Linked DNA regions of Homo sapiens: all the other regions are linked to region 1. The links come from fine-mapping of genetic effects on gene expression. A gene starts in region 1. Each other region holds a variant in brackets. All regions are shown on one strand. Distances are from middle to middle. Region 1 holds the start of ADPRH (ADP-ribosylarginine hydrolase). Region 2 has its middle 9.0 kb from the start of COX17. Region 3 overlaps PLA1A (phospholipase A1 member A).

What was found. PIP is the estimated chance that this variant, and not a neighbour inherited with it, causes the effect.
Region 2: its variant is fine-mapped to the expression of ADPRH in whole blood (INTERVAL, PIP above 0.99).
Region 3: its variant is fine-mapped to the expression of ADPRH in whole blood (INTERVAL, PIP 0.92).

Annotation. Positions count from the first base shown.
Region 1 is chr3:119,578,252-119,581,011 of GRCh38, reverse strand. It overlaps ADPRH (ADP-ribosylarginine hydrolase), which reads right to left and starts at 1,520. Exons shown (of 5, transcript NM_001125.4): 1 at 1,161-1,520; 2 at 376-461. RefSeq lists enhancers at 371-590, 1,531-1,630, 1,415-1,916 and a silencer at 1,211-1,350.
Region 2 is chr3:119,685,068-119,687,827 of GRCh38, reverse strand. No RefSeq gene overlaps it. Among named protein-coding and RNA genes, the nearest start is that of COX17, 9.0 kb to the right of the region's middle. The variant G/A (reference allele first, on the strand shown) is at 1,304.
Region 3 is chr3:119,607,323-119,610,082 of GRCh38, reverse strand. It overlaps PLA1A (phospholipase A1 member A), which reads right to left. Exons shown (of 11, transcript NM_015900.4): 3 at 1,136-1,313; 4 at 507-615. Among named protein-coding and RNA genes, the nearest start is that of PLA1A, 11 kb to the right of the region's middle. The variant G/T (reference allele first, on the strand shown) is at 1,594.

The DNA of each region.
Region 1 (2,760 bases):
TTCATATACAACCAGGGAAAATGGGTGTTCTGTTTTAGAACTAGAACATTTTCTCCCCACAACCTTTCCTTCGACAGTAATGTTTAAATATTGTTTCTCTTAGAAATGATCAGCTTCTAGAGAATTCGAATCTCTATTAATAATATACCCACCATGAATGAAATCCCTGGTAAAGCGCTGGCTTCCCTGTTGGTGCATTTCCTAAGAACCCCCCTCTTTCAGCCAATTCCTCAGGGTTCCCTTCTCCCTGTGGCTTTCAGGTCAAAGCCCTCCATCCCATCCAGGCCAATACTTTTATAAGGGTCTGGCAGACTAGCTCATTCTCCCCTCAGGTGAAACTTTTCCCTCCCCTCCACTTATCTAAACCCTATTTACCCAAGGTCTAGTTCAAGTCAGGAGGCTTCCAGAAGTGCTTCTGCAGCTGCACTGCTGTTGGCCATGGAATGCAGGCTGGAGAGCCCCTGGAGAAGGAGTAAACGACGAAGATGGATGCGTTCCACTACCCAGTTACTGGTAATGCTGAGTTTCTGAGCTCACAAAGGATATTTGTAAATGTTATTTACATAGTTTATTATTTACAGTGAAGCCTAGGCACTGAGATTCTGGGCTACTAGACCTGACAGACACCCGGGACAGCGGTTTGCCCATCTGTAAACTGGAGGGGGAAGTGGGGAGGTATAGGCTCTCGGAAGTTCCGTCCTGCGCTGCGATTTTCAGACACTAGGCCAAGACACTCTGCTTCTTGGCCTCGGAGGACTAACTTTAACCCCCCATACCCTCCCTCTCAATGTCCTCATTGTCCTTTCCGTAATTCCTTCTGGCTCCACCCTAATGTGTGCTTCTGTGAATTGCAAGCTGGGATGGGGGAAGAAGACCGGCATCTTTTTTCGGTTGTAAATTCCCTTTAACGTTCGCTTTCAGAACGCTGTAATTACTTAACTCCTCTGAACTTTCACGGGTCACATTCTCGTACCCGAACTATACATTCAGAACTAAGATCTGATCAGCTGCTTCCGGGCCATGCCCGGCTTTGGAAAGAAACGGGGCGGTTGACACGCTCCCACGATTTGCAAGACTGGGAATCCTCATGGTCGGCCACACTCGGAGAGCGCCAGGGGCGGGGGAGGGGAGCGCGGGGCCGAGGGCCGGGATCGCGATACCTGCTGTAGCCTGGACTGGAACGCGCGAGCGACGGGCGTGGCGCGGGCTCCCGGGGCCGGGGAAGAGGCCTTGGCTGCTGCGGGTGGACGAGGGCGCGGGTTGGGGCGGAGCCGGGTCACCGGGTTCCGGGACTGTCCCCAGATAAGCAGGGTGGCGGCGAGGGCCCCCGCACCTGCGCTTGGCCGCGCTGAGTGAGCTAATCTTGGAGCCTCCAAGGCGGCTTCCTGGCACCGCCGCGCCCTTCTGCACCCAAGCGAGAGTGGACGGGACCTCCGTCGCCCGCCCCAAATGCTCTGAAGAGCCCGGAGCCTGGTGCCCGGAATGTGGCGGCACCGGAAAGCCGGCTCTCGCCTGGCTGTGGTCAGTGACTCCCGTGTGGCCCCGGCTGACGCCTTCGCCCGTGCTCACGTCCGACTTTGTAGGACTGTAGTGGACCGGGTGTGCCCAGATGCTTGAAGAGCGTACTGAGTGTGCCGCCCTTGCCAGGGTTCTGGGCCCTCACGCATAAAGTGGGATAATAATATCTGCCTCTTAGAATGGTTGTTAAGGATTCAGTTAGTTAATTTTAACTAGTCATTTATTTGGCAGCAGCGTAGAATTCTTGTATCCTGATCGTAAATAAAAGCAAAGAAAAACGAAGAGTATTTTTGTCTAAATACATTAATCATGTCACTTTTAAAGCAAATCAGAATCACCATATGCAAATATTCTATATATTTCTCCAAAGTTTTAAATTTGCTATGCCTATTTTCTTGCTGTAATGACTAGCCTTGGTCTGAGAGCTTTTTAAAAAATTGATATATAATTTATATATAATGAAATGTCCTTACACCATAATCGAGATATGAAATATTTCCATCACTTTAAAACATTCTCTTGTGGCCTTCCCAGTGAATAACCATCTCCATCTCCAACTCTAGCCTAAGTGACTTTTGAGTGTTTACAAAAATCAAGTTCACCAATAAGGGAGGCAGAGATCACCTCCAACCCCCTACACCCTCTAGCTCTTAGTGAGCTAATCAGCTGCATCTAGAAGCCAAATTGACACTAGGCAGATTAACAAGAGAAAAGTATACAAATTTTATTAATTTTACATGTACATGGGGATGTTAAGAGACTGAATCCTGAAGAAAGTGTCCAAAGCAAGATGCTTTTATACTTTTTAGAAAAAGAGTGATAAATTTAAGAAGAAGTGACAGGACAAAGAAAATCCGGCTAGGGTGGTAAAAAATTTCTAGGGGAGCCCCTAGGAGATATATGGGGGGTGGGGTGTAAAACAGGTGGAAGATAATGGTTACTTTGCAAGAATGTTTACTCCAGTCCAAATGCCACCTCCAGTTCCAAATCTCTGGTGATGAGAGCTATTTTCTCGCTCTGGCGTGGAGAACATACCTCTCCTAGAGGAATCTTTATTGCTGGCTGCATGCAGGAAGAGACAGCTCAGCTCCTGTCAGGGAACCAGGCTCATTTGTCTTTCACACAGTATGCCAATCACTGAGGCGCACAAGTTTTGCAGTAGAGAAAGGGTGTATTCACAAGGCAGCCAAGACAGGAGACTGGAGAACAGGCCTCAAATGTGCCTTTCCAAAGATGGAATTT
Region 2 (2,760 bases), 110 kb before region 1:
TTGCCCTCCACCATGATTGTGAGGCTTCCCCAGCCATGTGGAACTGTAAGCCCAATTAAACCTCTTTCTTTTGTAAATTGTCCCTTCTTGGGTATGTCTTTATCAGAAGCATGAAAATGGACTAATATAGTAAATTGGTACCAGGGTGAGATACTGCTGAGAAGATACCTGAAAATGTGGAAGCAACTTTGGAACTGGGTAACAGGCAGAGATTGGAACAGTTTGGAGGGCTCAGAAGACAGGAAAATGTGGAAAAGTTGGGAACTTCCTGGATACTTGTTGAATGGCTTTTCCCAAAATGCTGATAGCAATATGGACAATAAGATCCAGATTCAGGTGGTCTCAGATGGAGGTGAGGAACTTGTTGGGAACTGGAGTAAAGGTGATTCTTGTTATATTTTAGCAAAGACACTGGTGGCATTTTGCCCCTGCCTTAGAGATTTGTGGAACTTTGAACTTGAGAGAGATGATTTAGGGTGTCTGGTGGAAGAAACTTCTAAGCAGCAAAGCATTCAAGATGTGACTTGGGTGCTGTTAAAGGCATTCAGTTTTAAAGGAGAAACAGAGCATAAAAGTTTGAAAAATTTGCAGCCTGACAATGCAATAGGAAAGAAAATACCATTTTCTGAAAAGAAATTCAAGCCAACGACAGAAATTTGCCTAAGTAACCAGGAGCCAAATGTTAATTCCCAAGACAATGGAGAAAATGTCTCCAGGGCATGTCAGAGGTCTTCATGGCAGCCACTCTCATCACAGGCTTGGAGGCCTAGGAGGATAAAGTGGTTTCATGGGCTGGGTCCAGGGTCCCCAAGCTGTGTGCAACCTAGGGACTTGGTGCCCTGCATCCCAGCCACTCCAGCCATGGCTGAAAGGGCCAACATAGAGCTCAGGCCATGGCTTCAGATGGCCAACCCCAAGTCTTGGCAGCTTCCATGTGGTGTTGAGCCTGAGGGTGCACAGAAGTCAAGAATTGAGGTTTGGGAACCTTTACCTAGATTTCAGAATATGTATGGAAATGCCTGGAAGCCCAGGCAGAAGTTTGCTGCAGGGGCAGGGGTCTCATGGAGAACCTCTGCTAGGGCAATGCAGAAGGGAAAGGTGGGGTTGGAGCCCCTACACCTACTGGGGCACTGCTTAGGGCATTGCTTAGTGGAGCTGTGAGAGGAGGGCCACTGTCCTCCAGATCCTAGAATTGTAGATCTACCGACAACTTGCACCATGCACCTGGAAAAGCCGCAGACACTCAACACCAGCCCATGAAAGTAGCCGGGAGGGAGGTTGTAATCTGCAAAGCCACAGGGGT[G/A]GAGCTGCCCAAGACCATGGGAACCTACCTCTTGCATCAGCATGACCTGGATATGAGACATGGAGTCAAAGGAGATCATTCTGGAGCTTTAAGATTTGACTGCCCCACTGGATTTCAAACTTGCATGGGCCCTGTAGTCCTTTTGTTTTGGCCAATTTCTCCTATTTGGAATAGGTGTATTTACCCAATGTCTGTATTCCCATTGTTTCTAGGAAATAACTAACTTGCTTTTGATTTTACAGGCTCATAGGCAGAAGGGACTTGCATTGTCTCAGATGAGACTTTGGACCATGGCCTTTTGAGTTAAAGATGAAATGAGTTAAGACTTTGGGGGACTCCTGGGAAGGCATGATTGGTTTTGAAATGTGAGGATATGAGATTTGACAAGGGCCAGGGGCAAAATGATATAATTTGGCTCTGTGTCCCCACCCAAATCTCATCTTGAATTATACTTCCATAATTCCCACATGTTGTGGAGGGACCCAGTGGGAGACAATTGAATCACGGGGATGGTTTCCCCCATACTGTTCTTGTGGTAGAGAATAAGTCTCACAAGATCTGATGGTTTTATCAGGGGTTTCCACTTTTGCATCTTCCTCATTCTCTTTGCCTGCTGCCATCCATGTAAGATGGGTCTTGCTCCTCCTTGCCTTCCACCATGATTGTGAGGCTTCCCCAGCCATGTGGAACTGTAAGGCCAAAGGCCAATTAAACCTCTTTCTTTTGTAAATTGCCCCTTCTTGGGTATGTCTTTATCAGCAGCATGAAAACAGACTAATACAGGGTGTGTGCAATTGACCTTTTTCTTCTTTCTTTCCTTTTTTTTTTTTTTTTTTTAAGGCAGGGTCTCACTTTATCACCCAGGCTGGAGTGCAATGGAGTGACCTCGGCTCACTGCAACCTCCGCCTCCTGGGTTCAAATGACTCTCCCTCAGCTTCCTGAGTAGCTGAGATTATAGATGTGTGCCACCAGGCCTGGCTAATTTTTGTATTTTTAGTAGAGACGGAGTTTCGCCCTGTTGGCCAGGCTGGTCTCGATCTCCTGACCTCAGGTAATCTGCCCACCTCAGCCTCCCAAATTGTGGGGATTACAGGCGTGAGCCACCATACCCAGCCACAACTGACCTTTTTCATCCAGTGATTAGCCTGGCTTTCTCCCACAAGCATGTGGACAAGTTGATTAAGATCAGAGAAGCTGGGCTAGTAAGCTTCAATTGTAATGTTAAATTCATCAGCAAAGCAAAGAGGGTCCTGGGTAACTTTAGGAAATTCCTTGGCTTTAACATGGATTTCAGCCTTATTCCAAGGGCATAGACAATCTAAGGAACCTCAGGATTGTTAGTGGGTCTAACCCTACAGGGACAAGTTTTTATAGGTTGAGGATGGGGATCAGAAGCTGGGAGGGTAGTAGGGGAGGAAGTATCAGGATTGAGTGGGGTTTTCAGAAAGGGAAGGGT
Region 3 (2,760 bases), 29 kb before region 1:
AACCAAATACCGCATGTTTTCACTTATAAGTGGGAGCTAAACATTGGGTGCACATGGACACAAAGATGGGAACAATTGACACTGGGGATTTCAAAAGGGGGAGGAAAAGCAAGGGACAAGGGTTGCAAAACTACCTATCAAGTACTGATTGCTACTTGGGCAATGAGATCATTAGAAACCTGAACCTCAGCATCACATGCTACACCCATGTAATAAACCTGCACACGTAAATCCTGAATCTAAAAGTTTTTTTAAATAAGAAACTTAAAAATAAAAAGTAAAAGAAGAAATACATGGCCTCTCACATTGATATTAGAAATCATGCAATAATAACACAATACCATTTTATGCAAAAGAACCACAATAAATAAATTTTAGTGGTAATAGGTGACTTGATCGTGAGAACAAAGGCTCTGTACTCCCCTCTGCTTGCTTTAGAAGAGATATTTTCAGGGCAAGCTTTCTCTATCTCTAAAGCCTGGAGGATGGGCAGGGAGGAATGTTACCTGTGATCTGTCCCAGCTGGCCTCCGAAGAGCTGTCCCACCATGCCCCCAACGTGGGCCCCCAGGCTAACACCAATGATGTGGATTGAGGATTCCGACACACCCAGCACCTAGAAGAGCAGGAACAGTGAGTTCCCCGTGGGCCACAGAGTCTGCTGGCTTCACAGTGGCAGGCTTTCCCCCAAAGCTTCAGAAGCCGAGGCCCTGGGCATGACACACCCACCACACTTACTTTGGAGGGAAAAAGGACAGCACTCTCATTGTTAATCACTTTTTCTCTTCCTGGGCTCCCCACCCTGACAACCCCCTTACTCTCCTTTTGGTGCCCAAAGTATGTGAGTAACGACCATGGCCATTCTCTCTTGAGGGACAACTAAGTGCCAGGCCATCTGCATTCGCTGTCTAAAGTGCCACGACACATTTTACAGAGGAGCAGTGGGAAGCTCAGAATATTCAATAAGCTGCCCGAGGTCAGTGCTGTGAGTGGCAAAGTCAAGATTTGAACCCAAGACCACCGAGCTACCTGGTGACTCTGCTTCCACCCTAAGCCTCCTCAGGCAGTGCTTTTGTCTTTCTGACCCTCTCTCCTCATACGCAGCCCAAACTCACCCTAAGCTCTTCTGCACCTACCAGGAGTTTATTGAGGAAAAGGGAGATCTCGAGGCTCAACTTAATCACATTTTTCACAGCTGAGAAGTAGACTCCTGTAGACCCATAAATCCAGTCCACGGCAATCACATTAGCATTCGTTGCACGCAGAAGGGTTCTAATAAATGTGTCAATCCAGGAAGGCTTTGTTCCTAAAACCCTAGACAGGGGGCCAAAAAAGAATGGAAAAATTACCTGCCAAGTGGATATTCATTGTCATGGAAACCTCTATTAATCTCAAACCCAGAAAAGAAATCAAAACTAGAGAAGGGCTCATATGAGGAGTTTATTACACAGTACTTGGAGCATAGGGAGGACACAATTCCAAAGTTGCCAGCCCTTCCGCCAGCACATATGCAGTCTTTGTGTAAATTATAAAACTTTGCCTTTTGTTCCAGGCAGATGCAGCCTCATGCTAGGGTTCAGAACTTAGCTTGGAT[G/T]TCAGCCTCATCAGCCTTTTGTCAGGCACCTTTGCACAAGGCATAAACCACATAAACTGTATACATTGCATTGCTCCATTTGTGTTATTTGTGGAAAAGAAATATGCCCTAGAGTTATGCCCTAGAGTTAAGATTTGCGATCTTAATTCTCATTCTAAAATATAGGCTCTTTCTTTGTGGACATTTTCTTTTTCTTTCTTTCTTTCTTTCTTTCTTTCTTTCTTTCTTTCTTTCTTTCTTTCTTTCTCTCTTTCTTTCTCTCTCTTTCTTTCTTTCTTTCTTTCTTTTCTTTCCTTTCTTCCTTTCTCTTTCTTTTTCCTTCCTTCTCCCTTTCTTTCTCTCATTCACCCACTGATTTATTCAGCAAGCATTTATTGAGTACCTATGGGCCAGGCAGTATGCTAGGTGCTTTCCAAAAAATAAAGACAAATAAGATATAGTCCCTGTCCTTCTGGAACTTACTGTATAGTGGGACTTTTCCAGGAAAAGGAAAATGATAGAAAAATGTTTAGAAATCTTTCCCAACAGATTGGGATCAGGAAATAAGTTTTTTGATGACTCCCAGTATAGAAGCAAAGAGAGCACACTCGTGTGGACAGAGGAGCGCGGACTGGGTGTGTGCCAGGGAATGGGGTTGTGGGATTTAAGAGCAGACAGAGTGCCTTGCCTGATGAGCTCTCCACCTCTATTAGCTACCCCTGGGTTGGAGGTACACACTCAGCCTTGGAAAGTGGTGGAATATGAGATGTGCTAGAGGAGAGGGTTTGGCACAAGAGCAAGGAGAGATGCCTAAGGAAACATGTAGCTGAGTCTCTGGAGTCCAGGGACCTGAGAGGCGGAGACAGGCCAGAGATCAGGAAATGGTGGTCCTTTGTGCACAGCCTTTGTGTCTACCTTTTCATTGGGTGCCCCAACTCTACTTGCTCCATAGTGCTATTACTTTACCATATTCTCTCCCTCTTTCCTCCCAGAAACCTTTCTCTGTTTCTAGCCCTATAGATGGGCTTTGGAGAAAAGCTGTTCAAAGAAAGGATGGTGATTGGAATTGAGACTCAGTGACTATATATTACAACAAATTGTGGACTGGAGAGTATCAGAGAAATTGAAGAAGAGACGTGCATAGCTCCATCACACCCATAACCTCTGGGTATGACGGAAGTAGCACCC